Linked DNA regions of Homo sapiens: all the other regions are reported to be linked to region 2. The links are microRNA targets in miRTarBase. Many come from high-throughput screens and were not tested one by one. Region 2 holds a microRNA gene; each other region holds the end of a gene's coding sequence.

Region 1 (4,000 bases), not on the chromosome of region 2:
GAGGCGGGCGGATCACGAGGTCAGGAGATCGAGACCATCCTGGCTAACATGGTGAAACCCCATCTGTACTAAAAATAAAAAAAATTAGCCGGGTGTGGTGGCAGGCGCCTGTAGTCCCAGCTACTCAGGTGGCTGAGGCAGGAGAATGGCATGAACCTGGGAGGCGGAGGTTGCAGTCAGCCGAGATCGCGCCATTGCACTCCAGCCTGAGCGATAGAGCAAGACCGTGTCTCAAAAAAAAAAAAAAAAAAAAATACAGTAAGTCTTCACTTAATGTTGTCCATAGGTTCTTAGAAACTGCGACTTTAAAAATGATGTATATCAAAACCAAGTTTTTTTTTCATTAACATTGTAACAAAATGACATCGAACAAAATGATGTTATTTGAAACCAGGTTATTTGAGGACCTTCTGTACTTGATTTGCTTACCTGCTGTACTTTAATTTCCTTCAAGTCGCAGTTGCTAAGAACCTATTGATGACATTAAGGACTTACCGTATGCAGATGATTGCTTGGGGATTTGTGAAGGGGTCTCTCATTTTCTTGATGAGGTAAGGGTTGTACAGATATGTGATTCCCCTGATCCCTCTTCTCTCAGGTCACTCTACATGACATGATCCTGAAAAATATCGAGAAGATCAAACGGCCCCGGAGCAGCAATGCAGAGACTCTGTACTGAGGCCAGGGCCAGGGCCAGGGGACTCTGTGAGTCTGGCTCAAGACCGACATTGCCTTGGTTTGTTACATGACTATCGTGATGGGGAAACTGGCTGGAAATAGTAATCACACCTCTCTGTTTTTAGTTAGAGTCTAATGAAACTCTCATCTAGTTCTGTGATGTGTTTACCTCTTTTTTCAGGCCTCAGGAACTCTTCTATTTCCTTCCCTAATACCCCACACCCAACCTGTCGTAATTTCTGGAGAACTCCAGGTTTGTGTGTGCAGGATGTTGGCACAAAAATACCTGTGTTTTCATTCTCCCCCTCTCTCCCTCCTGTGTCTTGCGCTTTATGTTTTCTTCCGTTTGATAATTAGTTGGTTAAAAGCTGAGGGAACCGGAAGGAAAGTGCTAGGTGTTTTTTAGGAACTAGGGTGGCGGGGGGACGAACTTCTCTTCCTCACATGAGGTTACTGTTTCTTTCCTCTGTGGGGCATTGGATCCTCCCACAGTTGCCCTGGTGATGACTTAGGGCTTCCCATCTGTGTACATCCCACTTTGAATCTTGATCGTGACAAGAAATACCTTAGGCCTTCAGTCAATTCCGAAGCTCCTTCAGTTGTTTTTATAATGGGCGTTTTCACATGCACATATGTGTATGCATGTATACGCCCATACAGACATGCACACACAGACTCCTACTCCATTAGCTAACATACCCTCCCTCTCCACAACCCCTGTCACATACCTTTCAGGAGGTGACAGTTGTCTTAGTTGTCATCTACCCAGACAAACGTCCTGGGCCCGTCCTCCCTCCTGATACTGTAGCCTCTTGGTACCCAGGGTGAGTTGGTGGAGAACAGAGAGATGAGAAGCAGAGGGCTTGGGGAAAGCCTGTTCCTCTCTGACTCAGCCCTTTTTGGCATTATTGCAAGAGCTTGACTCCTGGTTGCCTTTTCCCAGCCAGTTTTCAGTTGGGGTGAAGGTTTCTGCAAGTGTGAGGTCCAGATGCTGCTGCTCATGTTGGGCTTTCCTTTTGGGAACTATTTCTCTTTATTTATAGTGTCGGGCTTCCGGGGAAAGCAATCATTGGTGTGTATGTGTATGTGCATGCACACACGTGCATATACACATTTGTGTATGTGGAAATGTGCTGGGCAAGTCAAAACTATAGAAGAGTTGCCTCCTGTCTCTCGAATCTTCCAGAGATATCACTTAATTGTTAACAGCTTTTGTGTTAATCCCCTTCAGCCCCTAGCTCTTTTATTCTACCACGGCTGGAGAGTTGATACCTGCAGTCAGCCTGCCAGTGACTCTTAGTGTCTGTTTCTGACTTATTTTTCCTGTCTCTGTCTTCCAACCCCCAATAATATTTCCACCGGGGATGCATCATTTTTACTCCCAATATTCTGTAGAGAGGGAGTCAGGATGCTGTCTTCCCACGAATAGTACTCAGTAACAAACCAATTGCATTTTAGTTGGGCAGTGCTCCCACCCACCCTCCAGATCCCTTCCAGCTAAAACCCTTCCCCCTTCCCTCCATGTGTTTCTCAGTTTCCCGTTTCGTTTGTTGGACTGTTCCACTGCCCCTCCTCCTCACCCTATCACCCATGGATCGTAATGTAAAATTCTTTTACCATGTCAAGAAATTATTAAAAATACAGGTACTTTGACCTCTTTCTAAAGCCGCAGACCCTGGTGCAATGCTCTGGTGGCTAGGGATGTACTCATGCTCATATGTGTGCACGCTTGGACACCCACCTCCATGGACACCTAGCCACCCTGTTGTGTGTCCTTATGCCAGTTGAGCTGAATCTTTTCCCCAGTATAGTGGAAAGACTGAGGCTTCTGCCTACTGAGCAAGGTTGGGTGCTTCATTTGTGTTCAGTCTGAATTATGGGAAAGTTAGCTCTTCCCAGACCTAAGCTGCCTTCTCTCCCTACTTTCAGAAGATCCTAGTTCCTTCCTTCCCGAGTGATACCCATGAACTGCCAGTAGAGGCTGCTATCGTTCCATGTGTAAGGAATGAACTGGTTCAAGGCGCGTCCTACCCAGTCATTTTCTTTACCTTATACTAATTCTTCCTGAATAATGTCTTCAGTTTCTTGAGGAGACTCCTAGTTTTGGTTTTCAAATTACTTGGAGGGCTGCCTAGGAATCTATCTCCCTCTGAAATAAAGTTTCCTCATCTTCCACCTTGCAAGTAGCCTTCTGGTTTCCAATGATCCCCTCGTTGTCTCTGTAAAAAGAGTTTAAGGTCTTGAACAATGGAGGAGCAGCTGCTCTGTTCTGTTTCAGAGATGACTACCAAAAGCTAGCGGTTTGTGAGTGCCTCCCCTGTGCCAGGCTGTTAAGTACCTAATGTGCATGATCACATTTAATCTTCAGGAATCTATAGGATAGTTGTATCTATTTGTTACAGATGAGGACACTGAGACTCAGGATAAGTATTTCCGCTAAGGTTACACAGCTGAGGGAACTGGGATTGGTGGACAAACCTGATTACTAAGCCCAGGCCCTCAGCCACTCCACTGGTTGGAAATGGCCTGACTACAAATCAAGGGCTTGGCATTAGGCAACAAGTAGAATTCAGTGCTTACTGCTGAACATGGCAGTGAATCCTGGAGCTGTTGGGATGCAGTTCCTGCCAGGAGGTAGGAAAATGGACAGCTTAGTGCTTGCATGCAGGCTGCAGAACTTAATTGGGCATCTGAGGTTTGTACTCTTCCTGAGACCCATTCCAGGTGGAAACTGGAGGTTAGCATCGTTAACCCAGATTCCCTTTCATCTGGTCTAAATGATGGAAATCAGTAGTTGGTACTGACTGCTACCAGTGGGAGTTCAGGGGCAAGGAAGAGGCTATGCATGTGGAAGCAGTGCCCTGGGCCAAACCACAGGACAGAAAATTGGAACAGAATTACATAAATCAAGGTCAGAAATTTCCTGCCCAACCCATGGGGTGGAGTTTTCTCCCTTCCTATCCATCCTAGCGAATATAAACCCCGACTTGATGTCAGTAACTGGAAGGAGCAGCTGTTAGAATTCTGATTTCAGCTCTCAGCATCCACCATGCATCTCAAGATAGTCCTGGCGTTCCTGGCACTGTCCCTCATTACCATCTTTGCCCTGGCCTATGTTTTGCTGACCAGCCCAGGTGGTTCCAGCCAGCCTCCCCACTGCCCCTCTGTATCCCATAGGGCCCAGCCCTGGCCACACCCTGGCCAGAGCCAGCTGTTTGCAGACCTGAGCCGAGAGGAGTTGACAGCTGTGATGCGCTTTCTGACCCAGCGGCTGGGGCCAGGGCTGGTGGACGCAGCCCAGGCTCAGCCCTCGGACAACTGC
Region 2 (4,332 bases):
GCCCTTCAATAGTTCTTTTCATGTGTTTTTTGTTGTGGCTTTGCTTATGTGGGACAGTCCATGTTACAAGTTTTCTCTATTATTTATATATGAAAGTCTCCTCATGAAAACACCATCATATATAGCAAAGCAAACTATATTAGAATTCCATAATAACATGGCTTTGTATAAATTCTGATACCCTCTTGGTCATAGTTATTCATAGGTCAAATGAAACAATGAACTAATTACACATTGATATACTAGACTGAGGCTGTGTTTCAACCAGGTTGACCTTGTCTGGGGAATACATGCAATCAGGGGCATGTAAGTCCCCTCTGAAATACAACTGAAGATGGTATGATCACCAATGATTGGAAAGGTAGGATCACTGGGAGAAGTCAAGGTTGAGTCTTGGATGTTACAACTAATGTCTATGATTTCCATAGTTCAGAATAAAACCAAGGATAGCGTATCAATCAGGACAACAATAGTCACTCCAGATAGGAGGAATTTTAATAGAGGGAGGTGCTGAGAAGCCAAACAAATGATAATAAGGCAACCCAGACATTACAGTAGCAAAAAGCCACTATCATCCCTATGTTTGAGAGTTAAAGGGAAAAGACTGTTATTGGATTGCCTGGCTCTGGGGCCACAGACAGAAGCCAAAACCATTTCAGGTCTGCCTGTCAGTAGCTTGAACCAGTAAGCAAAGGACACCTATCCAGATTTGCAGCCATAGAAGAGGTTGAAACCTGAGACTATCTGGTTTAAATTAACCTTTCTTGTTACTGGCAGCTACTAATAGATTGCACTTAATCAACTATCGCATCTCTCATAGAGAAGGAGTCATGACCATGTTTTCCTTATTTATTATGCCATCGTGCAGCGGAGAGTGACCCAGAGGTTTATTCTTCTTATGTGACAAGACTGATGAAATCAATCTCACACCATTTTACACTTGTATCTATTGTAATTTTTATACATATTAAAATAAATACCACACACCTGAATTAGGGTAAATGGCTTGCTTATTCGTCCTCTGAGGTGGGCTTTTGTTTTTCCTTACTAGAAAGTCTGAGCGTGTTTCGTTTCTCATATTTGTTTAAATAAAAAAGAAATTTTAATGATACCATGAATCCTCATGATCAGGGAAGAACGATGTGTCAGTTCACCTGATGACCTCACCAGCAAGTAACAGAAAACAAGCAAAATGACTCATACAATGAGGGCTTTGTTATCTTTATTGTCTGACAAGTCCTGTTGTATGTTCCAAGATCACTGACTTCAAGGGCTCAATGAATGGCTCAGGGATCCATTTCATTTCCACATTTTGTTCTGCCATCTTTGGAATGTTCGTGTTTGTCCTTACGTGGCCCCTCACATCCCCAAGTTACTCCAACCTTATATCCTCAACAATAACTTCCAGAGGTGAGAAGATAGACCATCTCTTCCTTATGTTCTTTCATAAAAGTCAGAAAAACTGTACTAGAAATCCACCCCAGACTTCCCCTCACATTTTACTGGACAGAATGACATTACATCATGGACAAGAGAATGGAATTTACATGAGTCATTTCAACCAGAGTTGATATGCACCTTCAGCTGAGAAGGGACTTAGTCTCCTTTGAAGGATATGGCCTACCAAGACTTGAACAAAATCAACTCTTACACAGCACTTACAACAAGGGAGGCACTATTCTAAGAGTTATTAAACATACATAAAGAGATATAGAAATGTGTATTAAATCATTTAATACAAAAATTATATGAGGTGGTTATTATCTATAACTTATCAAGATATTAAGTAACTTAAGGGCCAGGCACAGCGGCTCATGCCTATAATCCCAGTACTTTGGGAGGCAGTGGTGGGAAGATGGGTTGAGGCCAGGAGTTTGAGTCCATCCTGGGCAACATAGTGAAACCCCATATCTACAAAAAAAATTAAAAATTAACCAGGTGTGATTGTGTGGACCTGTAGTTCTAGCTACTCAAGAGGCTGAACCTGGAGGATCCTTCGAACCCAAGAGTTTGAGGGTGCAGTGAGCTATGGACATGCCAAAGCACTTCACCCTTGGTGAGACAGCAAGATAACCTTGTATTAAATAAATAAATTAATTAATTAATTAATTAATTAATTAATTAAGGTCACACTGTTATTCAGTAGTGACAGCAGGGTTGTAACTCAGGTGATCTGGCCCCAGAGTTGTTGCCTTTAAGATGAATACCAGGTTGCCTCTGTGGAATAGTGTGTATGTGAGGGAGTAGGATGTATGGTTGTTAGATAGACAACTACAATCTTTTCTCACAACAGACAGAGCCTGTCATTAAGTAGGCACTCAGAAATGTTCATGGAATAAGCAAAAAAAAAAAAAAAGAAGAAGAATGAATGAATGAATATACCCTTTGATAGCCTCCAATACAGTGTCTTGTATGTAATAGTCATTCAGTGGTTGCTTAGTTGATGGTGTCTCATTGTGTGTCTATTGCAGCACAATTTAAGTAGAGAATTTAGGATATGCTACAAACTGGTCTATCATTTTCCTTAAGATAAATGAGGGGTAATGCTCAGAGAGAGGGCAGTTACCCATGACTGAAGTGGGAGAGACTGACATTCAGGAGTTTGATTTGGGAAACCCTAGAATTCTAGGAAGTGATTGCTGTTTATAAAAATGCAAATTGGTCCTGTTTAAACTTGTCATTATAGAAAAACCTAGCAAGGCTCATATCCTATGCTAAACTCCGCTACAATCTCTATCCAGAAGATGTCTGACCATTTTATATTGTTTTCCAACCCTTTCTTGGTTTGTTCGCTGGAGAGAATCCATCTCATTTACCACAACTCCAAAATCCCCCTGTGTGGAACACAAGACACATCTATGTCCTGCTCACATTGTTTTCTTGAGAGCAGAGAGATGTCAATTGGCTTGGTCCTCTTTTATATGCAATTAGATACAGCTATCATATATTACCTTGTGACAGATATGCATTGTCTCATTCAATATTAAGTAGGGATCCACATGTAGCCATCCACAGTCGTAGACCTGGATATATCTTGTTTCTACTTGGAGAAATTCAATGAATGGCAACATGGATTTACAAATCAATATTAAGAGGTAATTATTCTGCTTACAAATAAATTTGTCAGCTTCCACATCTGTTAGCAGGTCAGAGATTATTTGAGTTCACATTAGAGTGAAATACATAGAAAAGAAACTTAAAGTTTGTATATTATAGAAGATCATTAGGAAATGCCTTCCTTTGACTCTAGAGCCAAAGGACTAATCTAACAATCAATGTCATCAATAACTTTCTCTACAGTATTTAATGTCAATTATTGATTCCCAGAAAAGCAAACCCTGTTCAAAATGTGTTATTTTGATTTATAAGCAATTCATTCACCATATTATTCTCCCTGACCCGCAGTAAGCAAATAGGCATCAAGCCCATGGTTTCCTAGTTATTAAGAATGATAATGTCTCTTACAGATTATCCAATCCAGACCTCTTGTTATATAGACACAGTTAGAAGGCCCAGTTACTATCCCAAGGCTACATAGCTAATAAAATATACAGCCAGAAGGAGAATTTTGGTCTAGAGCTCTTTCCTGTCCTCACAATTAAATAATCAATTTCTTTACATGTCAAAGTCACTACATCTTACAGTTCAGTGCTTACATAACTTTATACCATGCCTTAAATAATATTCCCAAAATACTTATTTGTATTCTTTATATCTGCTTTGATTCCAGAGTACAGAGAGCTCTTGGAGGATGTGATAGATCATATTTTCCAAAGATGGTCACAATATAATTTGCTACTTTACACACTCTTCTTCATTGTGATTTTGTCCTTACACCATTAGAAGTTTATTTTTCCAACCACTTTGAATCTGAGTAGGCCATGTGATTGCTCTATTCAATAATATACAACTGAGGTTCTGCATATGGCCCTTAAGTAGCCCAGCAACTCCTGATCCCTACATTTTGGAATATTTGCTCATAGGACATTTCTTCCAAGAACCCAGTCTCTGCAGTGAGAAGCAGGAACCATACAACAAAGCCGTGATTAGCTGCTCCAGCCTAGCTAAGCTTTCAAAAACTGACAGCTAGTATCAACTACCAGACATGTAAGCGTACCATATTGAACTTCTAGCCCAGCTGAGCTTTTGGGTGACTGCAGGCCTAGATGACAGCTGCCTGTAAGTGCTTGAGAGACCTCAGGTGAAAACCAACCAGTTGGGCACAATCAACCCCCTGGCCTTAAGAAATATTAAATAAGTTTTGTCTTAATTGCCTGAAGTTTTAAGGTGGTTTGTTAGACAGCAGTAGACAACTGGAACACAGCACTAGAC
Region 3 (4,000 bases), not on the chromosome of region 2:
GATCACATGTTAAACTGCAAGATGGTACCATTAGGGAAAATTGAATGAAGGGTACATTGGTACAAGGGTACCTCCCTGTACATTTTTTCAACTTCCTGTGAATCTATAATTATTATGTTGTAAAAATTAAAGTATTAATAAAAAAAACTAAAGCAGACATTCCAGAGCTCAAGATATCAAGAAAAGGAAAATTAACTTTGTCTCTTCTCTTCTTATAGGACCTGTACCTGCCTCTGTCCTTGGATGACTCGGACTCGCTTGGTGATTCCATGTAAAGGAGGGGAGAGTGCTCAGAGTCCAGAGTACAAATCCAAGCCTATCATTGTAGTAGGGTACTTCTGCTCAAGTGTCCAACAGGGCTATTGGTGCTTTCAAGTTTTTATTTTGTTGTTGTTGTTATTTTGAAAAACACATTGTAATATGTTGGGTTTATTTTCCTGTGATTTCTCCTCTGGGCCACTGATCCACAGTTACCAATTATGAGAGATAGATTGATAACCATCCTTTGGGGCAGCATTCCAGGGATGCAAAATGTGCTAGTCCATGACCTTTCAATGGAAAGCTTAGGTGCCTGCGTTATATTTGCCCTGTCTAATTTTGCCCATACAGTCTTCCTTCTGTAGAGGGCTGTTTACATATACAGCACTTAAAATGTTTGTGTGGGAAAAAAAAAACTCATTGGCAGATCCAAGAATGACAAACACAAGTGCCCCTTTTCTCTGGATCTCAAGAATGGTGGAGGACCCTGGAAGGACAGCAAGGCAGCTCCCCAGCCTCACTCTTCACTCCTGATTGAGGCCCGGGTTTGTTGTCCAGCACCAATTCTGGCTGTCAATGGGGAGAAATAAACCAACAACTTATAATTGTGACACCAGATGCTTAGGATCCTGGTGCTGGGTTAGCTAAGAGAATAGACAGAATTGGAAAATACTGCAGACATTTCCGAAGAGTTTATAAAGCACAGTGAATTCCTGGTCAATCTCTCCACTGAGGCAATTTGGAATCAATAAGCAATTGATAATAGTTTGGAGTAAGGGACTTCATATACCTGATTCCTCTAGAAGGCTGTCTAACATACCACATGATTACATGAACTGTATGGTATCCATCTATCTCTGTTCTATTGAATGCCTTGTTAACAGCCAACACTGAAAACACTGTGAGAATTTGTTTTCAGGTCTGACACCTTTCAGTCTCTTTTTATAGCAAGAAATCAATATCCTTTTTATAAAAATTCATGTCTGTATTTCAGGAGCAAACTCTTCAGGCTCCTTTTTTATAAACTGGTGATTTTTCTTTTGTCTAAAAAACACATGAAGAAAATTTACCAAAAAAAAAAAAAAAAGCAGAAGAATAATGTAGTTTAGAAATTATGCTGTCACTGCCAAACAGTAACCTCCAGGAGAAAACAAGATGAATAGCAGAGGCCAATTCAATAGAATCAGTTTTTTGATAGCTTTTTAACAGTTATGCTTGCATTAATAATTTCAATGTGGACCAGACATTCTAATTATATTTTAAATGAAATGTTACAGCATATTTTAAGCAACTCTTTTTATCTATAATCCTAATATTTCATACTGAAGACACAGAAATCTTTCACTTGTCTTTAACATTAGAAAGGATTTCTCTTTACTAAGGACTGATCATTTGAAATAGTTTTCAGTCTTTTGAGATACAGGTTTATAACACTGCTTTTTTTTTTCTGTAATCATAGCCCATAATGGCAAAGACAACTAAATTTAAGTGAAGGTCATGCATGCCAATTCTGTGTTTGCTTTTAGCAGATATGAAGATTTCCTTATTTCTTTGTAATTGTGCAGATATTTTGAAAGGCACAGCATTCGAAGCCAAGCTGCTGTTTGGCTACTGAATGGCTTGCAGTTGTTCCTCCACTCTAAATGGAATGAGCTTGCTGTGTGTGTGTGTGGTGGTGGTGGGAGGGGGTGGTGCATGTGTGTGTGTGTGTGTGCATCTGCAGCTGCTTCAAAATTAGGAAATACTACAGGACACCCCTGTAATGGATTGGTGGCAACTGGGTGGCACTGCTGATGTGCACTGTGTAGGGGGGAACCCAGTGGTGGTGGGGTAGCTCAGATGCCCCTAGACAAGCTTCAGATGTCTGTAGCTACCAGAAACATTTTCGGTTCAGGAAAAGTGAGATGATGGTAGTACTGGTTTCTGGTGAAATTGAAGAACCCCAAATGATGAGGATCTCTTTTTGCCCCCTCTCCTTTTTTTGTAGACCCATTCAAAACCATTAATAAGCCCATTTTACTAAGCCCCTATTTCTTTCTAGAAGCTCAGGGTTTTCTTAGTGCCTCCCAGAACATTTTGTAGTTAATTGGGAAAAAGTGATACTTGGATTAGGGGGTGTGGGCATAAAGAATGGTGGGAGGCCTGATTTTAAACTTCAGGCCAGAACCCCCAATGACTCCACCCATAGTCTCACTTTAGGTCTCATTTAGTCCATCACCTTTATTTTAAGTTGAGGAAGTGGAGGCTGGTAAAGAGCAGGACCAGAGGAAGAATCCAGATTTCCTTATGCTTGGGCCTCACACTAGCTCTCTGAGTATTTCCTTGATTGCGGTATATGTACTACTAGAAAATACCAAATGGATATATTTTCTTTAGGATAACCTTTGAACCAACAATCTTCAATAACAATAGTACATCTTCCATCTTACTTTTAATCGAGTATAAGGAAATGTTTCTTTATGGCCATTTTGGAGGGAGCAGGGGATGAGGCTTGGCATAGTCCAAAATTTAAGTCTCCAATAATTAATTGCATTTTAAATTGGCCCACTTTCAAGGCAATTTTTTTTGTGTGTCTGTAACTGAGCTCCTCCACCCCTGTCATTCACTTCCAATTTTACCCAATCCAATTTTAGCACTCAAGTTCCATTGTGTTAATTTCTGCACGGTCAACAAACATCAAGTCAGCAAGCATTTGCCACCACTCCCTATACTTCTCCCTCCTTCTTACACACACACACACACACACACACACAATCCATCTCTTGCTTGTTCCTACCTCCTGATTTTTCTTCCCTACAGAAATAGAAATAGGGACAAAGAAGGGGAAAATGTATATATTGGGGCTGGGCTGAACAACTAACTTCATAAGTAGTATTAACTAGGGGTAAATTGAGAGAAAAGCTCCTTTTCTCTTCACTGTTTTGGAAAGGATAGCCATTAGCATGACTGCTTTGTGTCCTTATGGACTTTAGTATTAGCCTAGATTGAATTATAGCGTTTTCTAGCTGGAAGGAACCTTAAGATCACATCATCTACTCCTCTACTCCAAATTTCTCATTCTTCAGGCCAGGAAACCGAGACACAGAGGTAAAGTAATTTCCCCAAGGTCACACAGCTGGCTGGGGCAGGATTGGGTTTACAACCCACATCTCCTGGCTCTTATTCCAGGGCCTTTTCCCACTAAGTAGTATTGCCTTCCATTAGGCTCCTGAGAGTTATTTCTCAGGGTCATGTTGCATCTTGGAGCCACATGCTGCTGCCCTGATCTCAGTGGGAAATCCACCCAGCAACCTAATACAGCCCCTTTTCCCTGCATTCACCTGGTTCCCATCCACATGGGTTGCAGATGTCCTTGAAGAGAGTGAGGCATTGAGGGCCAATAGGAGCAATGGGGTCCCTGGCCTTGTCCATCTGATTCAGGAGATCACTGCTCCATCGTGAGGAGCCCTCTGAATAGCCCCCCACTGAATGCTTGCCTTGCCCAAATGGAATGGAGGAAGATTGATTTTCTCCATCAGTTCACCTTGTGTCATCTCATAATGGTTGGTCTTTCCAGGCTGAGGGAAATGTTTCTTGTTTCCAGAGTAGAAAAAGAAAGAGTGGAACAATAGCTTTGTTCATCCTAACTTTCTGAGATGGCTTTTCAACATTTTAAAAAAACTAGTGTGGCTACCATTCACTGGCAATGATTTCTTTTAGAATATGGGAGTAAGATGAGCTAGAGAAAATAACCTGGTCTCAC
Region 4 (4,000 bases), not on the chromosome of region 2:
TCTAGCTATGCTTGAACTCGTCACTACCCTGCATCCATCTTGTTCTCAGGGACAGTCTACTCCTTGAGGGACCTTCCAGCCACAACCACAGCAGGATGGGGACAGTGTTTATCACAATGACCTGGGGACCCATGGCATTTTGAGGAGCCCTTGACACCATTGGGGGATTGAATACACACACACCTGCTTTCCACACTGAGTGTTCACACCCACATGCACACTGTTCTCACCTGTCGGCTCCTCTGTGAGACAGCAAGTACCGTGACTAACTGGTACCCTACCTCACACACTTGACAGGTGAGAAGCAGAGGCTCTGAGAGGTTAAGTGGCTCGTGGGGGTGACCTGCAGGAAGGAGGATGCCGTGGCTGTCTGCACCAGGTGTGCTGGGTCTTGGTGATCTCTGCTGAGGCCTCCTGCTTGCCACAGAATGTTCCAGTCCTCAGCCCAGCTGCCCAAGAGGGACTTGGCAGAGCAGCAGGACCACAAACCCCATGGGTTTTTCAGTTATTCCTGAAAAGACCTCTTGCGGGGAGGGGGGCAGGCAGGAGGAATGTCCTCCTAGAAGGTTGTACATCTCAAGGGATGCTTAGGTGAACCCCAGTTCTAGCTGTCTATTTGGCAGTGACCTTTGACCCCAGGTGTCCAGGAGAGGGAGGCAAGGCCACCAGTTCCTTTTTGGCAGAGGAAGCACCTACAGAGCATTGTCCAGGACAGCAGGACACGAGGGTTGCAAACTCCTTAAATACCCATCTGACTCCTTCCTCTTACCGATGGGGAAACTGAGGTAACAGACCTTGCCTGAGGTCACGCTGTTCTCAGTGGCAGAGCTGATGTCAGAATCTGGGTCTTGGGCCCCCACCTCAAGGCTTCCTCTGCCTTCTGAGGCACTGCACGTGGGACACAGCTGTGGCTTCCGCAGCTGGGCTAGTGGACAGGCTGTGCACCCCCTTACGGCAACATGGCCCTGGGACGGCTCACATCAGGGGAGAGGAAGCCATTCCTTTCTCCAATCGAGACCCCAAGCAGAGGTTCTCCCACTTTGCCAAGCCATATGCCTGGACACTGGCAGCACTGCCTGGAGGAGACAGCTGGACCCAAAGACTGAAGCCAGGGGCCTGGGTCTTCCACAGCTGACCTGTGTGATCCTGGGCAAGCCACTTGACCCAGCTGAGTCTGTCTTCTTGTCCATAAAATGGGGAGAGCCCCTTCTTCATGGGGCTGTTGAGAGGATGGACAGCCAGGCAGAATGGAGGATGCTTTATACCCTAGCAAGTTTGTTCTGCTTTTCCAAAGGCAGGACATTGTGTTTGCACAGCTTGACTCACAGCAGAGCCCAGAGCTGGGCACTATCACCCTCATCTCCTTCTGCCTTCCCTCTGGGTCCCCAGCCACCTGGCTTTCTTGTGCCACCTGGCTTTCTTGTGCTTCCTTGAAACCACCAAGCCTGTGGCTGCCGCAGGATCTTTGCACTAGCCGTTCCTTCTGCCTGGAATGCTCTTTTCCTATCTTTAACGCCCATTACTGGCTCCTGTGTGTCATTCAAATCTGGGCTTCAATCATCTGCTCAAGGCGGCCTTCCCAGACCACCCCAGGTCCACAAGGGTCTCACTCACGTGTCCCTCGAACTGAGTTCCTGGCACTGAGTTCCCGGCAGAGCACTCACTGCCTTCGCCACCTTCCTTCTTCACTGTCTTCCTGCCCCAGCTAGAAAGCTAGCACAGTGAGCAGGGACCTGCCTTGCTCACTGTCGTGTCTGGTGAATGGATGGGTGGTCAGTGTGAGAACACTAGGTCTGATGAAATGAGGAAACTGCGTCAGAGGACACACACATTGATCAAGCAGGGCCTCCCGAGCTAAGAGCTGGGGGAGATTTGGTATCACTAACACCCATGGAATGAGTGTGTCTACACTGGCAGCATGGCCTTTGGAGATGTTTGTGATGATTTAGGTGATGCCATCTCATAGGTGTCCCAGGGCAGCGGGGCAGGAGTGGGGGTGATTAGCTCGGTGGGTGGATGTTACGGGCATGGAAGTCCTACTTGAAAGTGGATGGATTTCTAGAACGCTCCTGCCTGGGTTTCCATGGCCTTGTTACCCTTTCCAGCAAAGATCCACGTGTCTGTGTCTCCCACCAGATGGGAGGCTCCCCGGGGGCAGAGATGAGATCTAACTCATCTTTCATTCCCATCACTGCCCAGCACGGGGCCTGGCACACAGCAGATGCTTAGCCAGAATGTGCTGAGTGGATCAGCGCTCCAGGCGGTGATGGTGGAGGCATCAAGGAGATGCTCCCAGCATTGTGCAGGGTGTACCCCGGCTGGCGAGCATGTCACGTCCAGGGAGTTGGAGCCTGGACTTTGGGTTCCGGCACCGCTTCCCCACTGTGAGTTTTTCTGCAGGGGGTTAATCATACCTGCCTCCCAGGTGGTGAGAGAGGGAGTGCATGAAAACACTTAACTTGGCACCTGCCCTGTGGTCAGCCTGAGATGCAGCCCTTAGTATTACTATTGTTACAGGAACGAATTCTGTAAGAAACAACCCTGACTGGCATTTTCAAATCCCCAGTGCTCCCCGAGACACAGAGGGGCCGTACCCTGTGCTTAGCAATAAGCTTGCGGCTCGGACATTGACACGGATGAGAACCCCCAGCCGGAGGGTGACTCATGCCCATCAGAGAACTTGAGGGGGGAAGCCCCAATAAAAACCAACCAACCAAGCAAACAAAAAGAACACCCCAAATCACACACACGCACACACACACGCACATTCAATATTCTGACACAAATAGCCCCAAGGGGCCACTACTGGAGGGAGCAGGGGCAAGGGAAGCTTCGGTTTTCAACCACAGGTATAACTCACAGGCCTCAATCCTCCTGGCTGGAATCAGCCAGAGTTGCTTTGTCTTGGTCATCCTGAGTCCACAATGAGTCACCTCTCAGAAGCCACCAGCCCAAAATAGGACTATTGCTTGCGGACAGGTGGCTCAGAATCCCCTCCCCTGCACCCCCAGCCCCTACCCCTGAGTTTGCTCCTAATCTTAGAAGTCCGCGGAAGGGGGCTTTGGGCACAGGCAGCATTTCCTCCTGTGCCACCGCCGCTACCTCGGCTGTCCCTGGCATCTCTGTAGAAGTTGTTCTTCTCGGAGGCTGCACCGGGTGCTTCAGATCTCATCTCCCCCATCCTGAGGCACAGCAAAAGCGTTTTCTGGAGGAAATACAAGGAAAAAAAGTATCACATGGTGTCTCCTCCATGGGGACATTTCTCTCTGGCCTCAGTGCCGGAAGAAGCCAGGTTTTCTCTGAGCATGTGGGTTTTGTCTTCTGAACATTGCGAACCATGTGACTTTAAGACTGGAAGAAAGAAAAAAAATGTCTGCTATCATTATAGCTCCATATAGTACTAGAGCTCTGGCCCATGCAATAAGACAAGAAAAATAAGCATAGAATAGGACTGGAATAGAAGAACCAAAATTACAGTTAATTGTGGATAACTTACATAGAAAATTTAACAGAATCAACAGGTTAATTAGTAGAATGGAGAGTGCAGACATAGACGTATAATAGTCAACCTATAAGACATCAGATCAATTTATAAAATGCAACAGTGTGCACTGACCTCAGCAATTACTAGGGTAATTATATGTCATGGCTTGGGACAGTCTCAGTTAACACTTGTTCTGACATAATTTTTAATGTTGTTCCCCTTTTATCCTCAAAAGTATTCTGATTTGGCTGATAAATTATATGGTCACCATTGCCATAACAAACTAAATATTAAACACAGATACAGATACCATTCATATTGACAAAAACCATTATGTATTTTGGAATGGCACTAATATATGACCATGTCATACAAAGCTATAAAGAAGAGACCAAGGTGCTCCTGGAATAGGGAAAAGCCAGGAGACCAGTGGAACAAGATCTACAGTGTGGAAACAGATCTGCGGGGCACTTACTTATAGCTTTGATTGGCAGAGTCAAGTTGCAAACAAGACAA

What was found. Region 2 holds the annotated microRNA hsa-miR-4510 (UGAGGGAGUAGGAUGUAUGGUU, at 2,237-2,258, shown strand). A microRNA usually pairs through its seed, bases 2 to 8, with sites in the 3' UTR of a target mRNA and lowers its output. Matches are read on the target gene's strand: a 7mer-m8 pairs with bases 2 to 8, a 7mer-A1 pairs with bases 2 to 7 and ends in A, and an 8mer does both.
Region 1: the mRNA of PSME3 is a reported target of hsa-miR-4510. Seed matches in the 3' UTR shown: 7mer-m8 at 988-994, 7mer-m8 at 1,379-1,385, 7mer-m8 at 1,468-1,474 and 7mer-m8 at 2,822-2,828.
Region 3: the mRNA of DCX is a reported target of hsa-miR-4510. Seed matches in the 3' UTR shown: 7mer-m8 at 2,972-2,978.
Region 4: the mRNA of SHISAL1 is a reported target of hsa-miR-4510. Seed matches in the 3' UTR shown: 7mer-m8 at 2,809-2,815, 7mer-m8 at 2,435-2,441, 7mer-m8 at 650-656 and 7mer-A1 at 65-71.

What each region holds. Positions count from the first base shown.
Region 1 is chr17:42,840,900-42,844,899 of GRCh38, forward strand. It overlaps PSME3 (proteasome activator subunit 3), which reads left to right. Exons shown (of 11, transcript NM_005789.4): 11 at 599-2,861. The coding sequence ends at 679. It overlaps AOC2 (amine oxidase copper containing 2), which reads left to right and starts at 3,681. Exons shown (of 4, transcript NM_009590.4): 1 at 3,681-4,000. The coding sequence starts at 3,728.
Region 2 is chr15:35,924,627-35,928,958 of GRCh38, forward strand. It overlaps MIR4510 (microRNA 4510), which reads left to right and starts at 2,230; the gene lies at 2,230-2,297. The region is part of intron 1 of LOC105370766 (a long non-coding RNA gene); the gene reads left to right.
Region 3 is chrX:111,297,962-111,301,961 of GRCh38, reverse strand. DCX (doublecortin) reads left to right here. Exons shown (of 7, transcript NM_001195553.2): 7 at 219-4,000. The coding sequence ends at 275. Among named protein-coding and RNA genes, the nearest start is that of CAPN6, 29 kb to the right of the region's middle.
Region 4 is chr22:44,246,481-44,250,480 of GRCh38, forward strand. It overlaps SHISAL1 (shisa like 1), which reads right to left. Exons shown (of 5, transcript NM_001099294.2): 5 at 1-3,205. The coding sequence ends at 3,205. Among named protein-coding and RNA genes, the nearest start is that of SHISAL1, 64 kb to the right of the region's middle.